Regions from separate parts of the Homo sapiens genome. Here region 1 is linked to region 2. The links come from fine-mapping of genetic effects on gene expression. A gene starts in region 2. The other region holds a variant in brackets. All regions are shown on one strand. Distances are between the middles of the regions. Region 1 overlaps LRRC4B (leucine rich repeat containing 4B). Region 2 holds the start of LRRC4B (leucine rich repeat containing 4B).

Region 1 (4,000 bases), 26 kb before region 2:
AAATAAAGTGCACCGGCCGGGCGTGGTGGCTCACGCCTGTAATCCCAGCACTTTGGGAGGCCAAAGCAGGCGGATCATGAGGTCAGGAGATCGAGACCATCCTGGCTAACATGGTGAAACCCTATCTCTACTAAAAATACAAAAAAAGTAGCCGGGCGTGCTGGTGGGTGCCTGTAGTCCCAGCTACTCGGGAGGCTGAAGCAGGAGAATGGCGTGAACCCGGGAGGCGGAGCTTGCAGTGAGCCGAGATGGCGCTACTGCACTCCAGCCTGGGCGAAAATGAGAGGCTCTGTCTCAAAAAAAAAAAGAAAAGAAAAGAAAAGAAAAATTAGCCGCTCACAGTGGGGTGTGCCTGTAATCCCAGCTACTCGGGAGGCTGAGGCAGGAGAATCGCTTGAACCTGGGAGGCGGAGGTTGCAGTGAGCCAAGATTGCACCACTGCACTCCAGCCTGGTGACAGAGTGAAGCAAGACTCTATCTCAAAAAAAAAAAAAAAAGAAAAAGAAAAAGCAATGCACCATAAATGTAATGCCAAAACCATCTCCTCGACACCCCAGTCCATGGAAAAATTATCTTCCATGAAACCAGTCCCTGGTGCCAAAAGGGTTGGGGACCGCTGATGTAACCAGTCCCTTGTCAGCAGGAGTTGAGGCTACTTCTAAACGTTGGTAGTCGGGCCATCCTTAAACACAACTCTTTGAAGCCCCTCTAATAATTTCCTTAGGATGGATTGGTTTGTTCCTTAAGCTGGAACCACACTTGCTTGCCATACAACCTCATAGCCGGCCCCAGGAGGGACCCAGAGCCGCCCGCTAAAAGCCTTGGGTGGATTCAGTGGTACTTTGTTAAATTAAGTACATGAATATCCTACGGCCCGGCAATTCCCTCTGGGTATATATTCCACAGAAATGATCATGCAGCTCCCAGAGGGGTCCTGAGGGAGGATTTGCGGTGGGGCAGCTAGAAGCCTCCGGGACGTCCAGTCTCATCAGGAAGCAGTGGGGGACTTGGCAGATGGACGGGGGTGGGTGCCCATCAATTCTGTAGCAGCAACAGCAGCAGAGTGGACACACACAGCAATATGAACCACTCTCAGAAACACAGGCCGAGCGAACACAGTGAGACAAAGACAGCGATCTTAACGCAGCTTCATCTGCATAAATTAAGAATACGTGTACGCAAAGCAACAATACCCATTTTGCAAGAACACACACAAGCAAAAAATCCACAGTAAACACATTAGGAGGACTTTCTGTGGGGAGAGGGTAAGGCGGGGATATGAGGATAAAAGGGAGGGAAGGAGGAAGGAGCCAGTCCGGTGAGGACCAGGTACCTGACTGAGGAGCGAGGAGTGGACAGGCTGGGCCCAGCCGAGGTGGTGCACCTTCCCCCCAGGTCCCGAGGAGATGGAGGCGAAGATCTGCACCCGGTCTTCTCCCAGGGGGCCAGGGCATGTGAGCTGCGGGGAGGCAGTCTCCTGGCCTCTGCCTTAAAAGGCATTTCCTGAGGCTCCAGGCTTGCAGGCCCCACCAATCTCAAAAAACAGTGGTGGGGCCGGGGCAGGGCCTCAGAGAATTGCTGATTTTTTTTTTTTTTTTTTTTTTTTTGAGACGGAGTCTCGCTCTGTCACTCAGGCGGGAGTGCA[T/G]TGGTGTGATCTCAGCTCACTGCAGACTCCACCTCCTGGGTTCAAGCTATTCTCCTTCCTCAGCCTCCCAAGTAGCTGGGACTACAGGCATACGCCACTATGCCTGGCTAATTTTGGTATTTTTAGTAGAGATGGGGTTTCACCATGTTGGCCAGGCTGGTCTCGAACTCCTAACCTCAGGTGATCTGCCTGCCTCAGCCTTCCAAAGTACTGGGATTACAGGCATAGCCACCGCGCCTGGCCATGATATTTTAAAAAACACATCCTCTGTCTTACTATGGGGACCACCTACTGTCTCTGTCATGTGGCAGAAGAACATTTTAACTCTCTCACCAAAGATGAATGGCAACGTTCTAGCTTCCCAGAGAGAGGCCAGCACCGTCACCCCGTGGACTTAGAGTCCCCCAAAGTCCCCGCGAGGTTCTTGCTGCCCACACCGCACCCAGGCCAGGGGCAGGCGAGAACAGGAGTCTCTGAGCCACCCCCCAGAGCTCACGGGAGGGCGTCGCAGGGATTCGCGTCGGCTCCCACCGACAGATGGCTGCAGGCCTCTGCCAAGGATCCGGGCAGGAGTTCGGGAGCTGGCCTCCCATTCAGAGGCAAACAACTGCTGGGCACCTCCTGTGTGCCAGGCTCGGCCCTAGGTGCTGGGGATCCGGCAGGGAACATTGCAAAGTCCCTGCCTTCATGCAGGTGGCAGCGCGGCGGGGGACAGATGACAACCAAGGCGGCAGGTCACACGGGAGGCTCTGGAATCCCCAGAATTCAGCCTGCCGCTACCAATGCTCCAGTGCCAGGCCCTGGTGTGTGTGTGTGTGTGTGTGTGTGTGTGTGTCTCTGTGTGTAAGGGAGAAGTACACTCAAATGAGGAAGCCACATAGAACTCACAGGGCGGTGCTTCTCTCATCATCCCTCAGACCCAGAAACTCCGCTTCTAGGAATTTATCCCAAGGGCAGAGTCCAGAACATTAGGAAGAATGAGCCAACGGATGTCCCCCCGGTGTTGTTCATATCAACTCAGAAATTGGAAATAAGGAGGCCGGGCGCGGTGGCTCACACCTGTAATCTCAGCACTTTGGGAGGCCGAGGTGGGCGGATCCCTTGAGGCCAGGAGTTCGAGACCAGCCGGGTCAATATGGTGAAACCCCGTCTCTACTAGGAAGTACAAAAATTAGCTGAGTGTCGTGGTGGGCACCTGTAGTCTCAGCTACTCGGGAGGCTAAGGCAGGAGAATCTCCTGAACCCAGGAGGCAGAGGTTGCAGTGAGCCAAGACTGTACCACTGCACTCCAGCCTGGGTGACAGAGTGAGCCTCCATCTCAAAAAAAAAAAAAAAAAAAAAGAAAGAAAAGAAAAAAGAAAAAGAAGGGCCTGGTTAAATAACAGGATGCTGGCTGGGTGTGGTGGCTTGGGCCTGTAATCCCAGAACTTTGGGAGGCCAAGGCGGGCAGATCATCTGAGGTCAGGAGTTCGAGACCAGCCTGCCCAACATGGTGAAACCCCGTTTCTACTAAAAATACAAAAAATTAGCTGGGCGTGGTGGTGTGCGCCTGTAATCCCAGCTACTTGGGAGGCTGAGGCGGTAGAATTGCTTGAACGCGGGAGGCAGAGGTTGCAGTGAGCTGAGATTGCACCATTGCACTCCAGCTTGGGCAACAAAAGCAAAACTCCATCTCAAAAAAAATAAAAAATAGGCCGGGCGCAGTGGCTCATGCCTGTAATCCCAGCACTTTGGGAGGCCGAGGCGGGCAGATCACGAAGTCAGGAGATCAAGACCATCCTGGCTAACACAGTGAAACCTCATCTCTACTAAAAATACAAAAAAATTAGCTGGGTGTGGTGGCGGGCACCTGTAGTCCCAGCTACTTGGGAGGCTGAGGCAGGAGAATGGCGTGAACCCGGGAGGCGGAGCTTGCAGTGAGCCGAGATCACGCCACTGCACTCCAGCCTGGGCGACAGAGCGAGACTCCGTCTCAAAAAAAAAAAATAAATAAAAATATAAATAAAAATAAAAAAATAAAAAAGCTAAAACTCCATTTACAAATCAGCAGCAATTGTGCAACACACTGTGCATGGGTGGGGAGGGTGTCCGAATGCAAAGACACCAAAGCGAAGGAGAGCTACCCATGGCTGTGGGATTATGGTTGGCTTCTGTCTTCCTGTTTTTACTTAGGTATATTTTCTAGTTTTTCTCAATTAATTTATATTCATTCTGTAATAAGTAATTAAAAATACACTTATGGCTGGGTTAGGTGGTTTATACCTGTAATCCCAGCACTTTGGGAGGCCAAGGTGGGTGAATTGCTTGGGTCCAGGAGTTCAAGACCAGCCTGGGAAACATAGTGAGACCCTGTCT
Region 2 (4,504 bases):
GAGAGAGACTGGCTGGGCCCCTGGCAGGACAGGACCCCAGGGAGGCAGGGGCATAGAGATGGGGGGAACCCTGAGAGCCCGGGATTGATGGTGAGTTGGAAGGAGAGGCTCCCAAAAGGAGAGAGCTAGGATTGGGGGGGTCTGAGACTGGGGAGTACTATGGGGTGAGGAGACAACGATGGAGGGGGTCTCTGGGTGATGAAAGGTCATAGAAGGATGTTTCAGAGAGTGATGGGCTAAGGAGAAGGCGACTGGGGGTGTTGGGGAGAAAGGGGAGAGGCTGGGGTGCAAGGCCCAAAGAGGGGCGGGGAGGGAGTGGGAGGAGGGAGCTAGAGGAGAGGGCGGCTGAAGTGAGGGTCTCCTGGACAGAAGGTCTGGAGAGGGATATCTGGGGGATTGTCAGAGATGGGGGTTAGAGAAGGCTGAGGAGCAGATGCCGTGTCTTAGAAGGTCCTAGAAGAGCAGGTGTGAGGGTCGGAAGCCTGGGGAGGAGGCAGCAAATGGGGGGCGGGGGTCTCCAGGAGGAGAGGTTTCCAGGAGGGGAGGGCGGAGGGAGGTGGGAGAGGCAGTGGTCCTGGAGAGACACGTGCCCAAGGATAGAAGGCCCCAAAGCCTAGTGGGGTCAGGGAACGGGGGTCTTGGAGAGACGGAGGGGCAGGGGTCCGAGCCGCCCACCAGGAGAGGCGGGGTGACCCCAGAGGGAGAAGGGCTGAAGACTGGGGAGGGGGTTGTCTCACTCCCCAATCACCCCCTCCGTCTTTCCCATTTTCACTTCCCAAACTCCCCGGTTCTCCCCGGTTGCCACGGCAACCGCTCTTGCCAGGCGCGGTCACCAAGGAAACCCCGTGCCCGCCTCTCCCCCCTCCCCATCACTGGCGTGCCCCCCCCACCCCAAGCAGCAGCGGTGTGGAGGGTGGGAGGGGCCATGGGGAGAGGAAGAACCTGGACTCCCGCCCCAGAAAGGGGGGCCCGGACCTACGCCCGGAGAGCCCCCCACCCTAAGCCTACTTCCTCAGCCCCACAGCTGGATACGCAGCGACCGCCGGACGCACCCCCCACAACCTGTCCCCAGGCAGCGGCGACAACCACCCCCCCCACAGCACAGAACTCGCCCTGCCCGGAGAACCCCCACCCAGTCGCCTCCCCCACCGGCTTCTGCCTCCCATTAGGCCCCGCCCCCTGTCCTCTGCCATCCCCCCCCATCCCGGAGGAGGCCTAAGACCACTGTCCCCCAATTAGCGAATGCCCCCCACCCACCCCCCGCGGTTCCGCCTCCGGCCCCCGCCCCCGACCCGTGCCCCTTGGCGGCTACTCACAGCGAGGAGAGGGGTTCCTTCCGGGGGGCAGCATGCCCGGCCCGTGGGGGGAGGACCCCCCCAATGAGGCTCAGGAATTTGGGGTGCAAGGCCCGCTGCGGGGAGGCGCGGGGGGCGGGGCTGCGGCCGGGCCTGGAGCCTCTCGCGCTCTCCCCCCTCCCCGGCTCCTGGGTGGGGAGGGGGCTTCCGCAGCGGCGGCGGTGGGGCTGGGGGGGCCGCTCTGCCTCCTCGCCTCGCGCCCGCCTGCCGTCCGGCCCCGCGCCCTCGCCCGCCGCCCGCCTTCCTTCTTGCCTTCCTTTCTTTCCTTCTTTCTTTCCTGGCTTCCTTCCTTCCAGCCTTCCTTCCTTCCTTCCTCCCTCCTCGGGCCCGCCGGCGCCGCTCTCCCCCCACCCCACCCCCCCCCAGGCCCCGGCCCCGGCCCCGGCCCCCGCCTCGGACGGTGCGGCAGCGACCGAGAGCAGCCGAGAGCGGCGGAGACGGGAGCGGAATACTGATGATGGTGGGAGCGGGCGGGCGGAGGGAGGGAGCAGGGAGGGAGGCCCGGGAGGAGAGGAAGGGGGGAGAGAGGGAGGGGAGGGAGGGCAGCGTGGAGAGGGAGGAAGGAAAGAGGGGGGAAGAACCGGAGAGGATGGGAGAGGGAGGGAAGAAAGGAGAGGGAGACGGGAGGGAAGGGGAAGGGGGGGAGGAAAGAAGAGGGAAGGGGAGGAAAGAAGGAAGGAAGTGGGAAGGGGGTGGAAGAAAGAAGAGGGGGAGAAAAAGGGGAGGAGCAGGGGAGAGAGGAGGGAAAGGGGAGAGGGTGTGGGAGGGGAGGGGAGAGGAGGGGGTAACTCCTGCAATAAGGTCCTGGATGAAGGGGAGGGGAGGGCGGGGGGCAGGGGGAGTGGGTAGAGGAAGAGGAAAGGAGGGAGAGGAGGAGTGGAGGGGGAGATGGGTAGAGAGATGGGCAGGAGAGGCCCAGGGGCAGGGAAGTGAGGGGAAAGAGGAGGTAGGGAAGGCCTAACTTTGAGGGCTGCAGGGGACAGAGGGGCCTGGAGGGCGGCGGGGGCTGTGGGGAGAAGAATGGGGGGTGCGGTGTGCGTTGTCAGGAAGAGCAGGGGAAGCTGGCAGGACCCGGAAGAGGCAGGAGGATCTAAGTGGGACAGAGATGAGAGGATGGAAGAGGGAGGGAAGGACCCGTCGGGGGGAGGGGGGAGGAGAAAGATCTCGGGGGAGAGGAGAGAAGCTGGGGAGCTGGAGCTTTGAGGGCCCAAGACTGGGTGGCAAGAGCCCGGGGAGTAGACAGAGTGGGGGAGGGGACAGAGGGCCTTTCTTGAACTCCGCTGTATGCCCGCTTCGTCCGCCCCTCCACCTCATGAAGAGAAGAACCTTCAAACCCATTTTCCAGAAGAGACCACTGAGCTCTTGGAGGAGCCAGGATGGGGTTTGAATGCAGTCTTGGGCTGGGGGTACCCTGAGGGAGATGGAGAATGGGTCAGTTCCTAGCTTTCGTCCCTGGTCCAGACTTGGCAGGTGGAGGCACCTGGGAGGGGCAGAGGGCACAGCCTGCAGCCTCCCTACTCACTCTCCTCTCACCTCCCCCAGGTGTTGGCAGCGGGTGCTGGGGACGCATTTAGAGCTGTGAAGCTGAGCTGCATCTTGGGTGCAGGGAGGGGGAGGGCAGATGCAGAGGCCTCTGGGAGGTCACCGTGACCCTCCCCTCTACCTCCCCGGTCCACTACCCCAAAAGCTTGGGCCCCAAGGAAGGGGGACATCGGGAATCAGGGGCGGAGAAACCCAGAAGGAGGGGTGGCCCCTGTCCAGGACACTGAAGATCCTTCCAGATGTTAAAATTAGCACAGAAGTTTCACCCCTGCCTTGTTATCCCCCAAAACGCTGACTAATAACTGAGGACTCAGGAGAGAGAGAAGAAAGATGAAGGTTCCTTCTTTCAGTGCCAGGGGACCCGGGACAGACTCTCCCTCTTCCCCTTCTCCTCGGAGAGCCCCAGGGAGGGAAAGTGTGGCTGTACCCCTGCAGGCAGAGCCTGGGGAGAGTCAGGGTTGGAAGCTGGAAGGAAAGTGGGCCAGACACATCTATAATGAGCCAGGGTTCCCGAGAGAAGCCAGGTCACAGATGGGTTCGGAAGAGGCGGTTTTGGGTGGGCGCTGGTGGGTGCTGAGCCCTGAGAGCTGCCGAGAGGGGAAACTGAGAAGGGGCTGGGCGAGGGCCAGGGAGTGGCAGGTGGCTGTGGTGCTTCGGGTTTCACCCGCCCCTGGCGCCGCTCAAGTCTAGTTCGTGAGACTGGACCAGTGAATGTGTGTGTGCACCAGGGTCCAGCACAGAGTAGGCCAGGACCGATGGTGATACCAGCAAAACAGAATCACATGGTGGCAGCCCGCGGTTCCTCCTGGTCTCCCACAGGCCAGATGCTGTGCCCAGCACCTCACAAGCGTGGCATCAATCCTGCAACCATGCGGTACCAACTCCTAGGGATGGTGGTACCTGGTGGGCACAGGTGAGAGCAGGCCCCTGATGAGCCCTGAGTTAACCCTTTCATTACAAGAGGGTCTCGGCCGGGCATGGTGGCTCGCACCTGTAATCCCAGCACTTTGTGAGGCCGAGGCGGGAGGATCACTTGAGGTCGGGAGTTCGAGACCAGCCTGGCCAACATGGTGAAACCCCATCTCTACTAAAAATACAAAAATTAGCCAGGCATGGTGGTGCGCGCCTGTAATCCCAGCTACTCGGGAGGCTGAGGCACGAGAATCACTTGAACTCGGGAGGCCTCCAGAGGTTGCAGTGAGCCGAGATCACGTTATTGCACTCCAGCCTGGGTGACAGAGCGAAACTCAGTCTCAAAAAACAAACCAAGAGGGTCTCAGGTGAGAGGCCAAGCCGTGTCAGGTGGGGCCGTTAGAGAAGCAGGGAAGTATTCCAATATTTGAACAACCAGCGAACCCTCTTGGTCCATGCAGCCTAAGTCTCAGCCCTGCCTGGAGGGTATGACTGCCCCTGTTTTACTGAAGGAGAAATGATTTGCCGTCAACCTCCAGAGCTCATCAAGGGTCTTCAGCACCGGGCACTGTTCAGGGCTTTGAGAGCCCGGCCGGAGAACAGTAAGGAGACAGCCCCTGTCCCCGTGGAACTGACCCCTCAAGGTCCTATTTCCAAGAGCAGTGTGAGCAATGAAGAAAATAAGAGGACAATTA

The links. PIP is the estimated chance that this variant, and not a neighbour inherited with it, causes the effect. A credible set is the group of variants that fine-mapping cannot tell apart.
Region 1: its variant is the best candidate, but not a certain one, in a credible set for the expression of LRRC4B in subcutaneous fat (GTEx, PIP 0.53).

Annotation. Positions count from the first base shown.
Region 1 is chr19:50,540,888-50,544,887 of GRCh38, forward strand. All of the region lies in intron 2 of LRRC4B (leucine rich repeat containing 4B), which reads right to left. Among named protein-coding and RNA genes, the nearest start is that of LRRC4B, 26 kb to the right of the region's middle. The variant T/G (reference allele first, on the strand shown) is at 1,646.
Region 2 is chr19:50,566,628-50,571,131 of GRCh38, forward strand. It overlaps LRRC4B (leucine rich repeat containing 4B), which reads right to left and starts at 1,808. Exons shown (of 3, transcript NM_001080457.2): 1 at 1,317-1,808.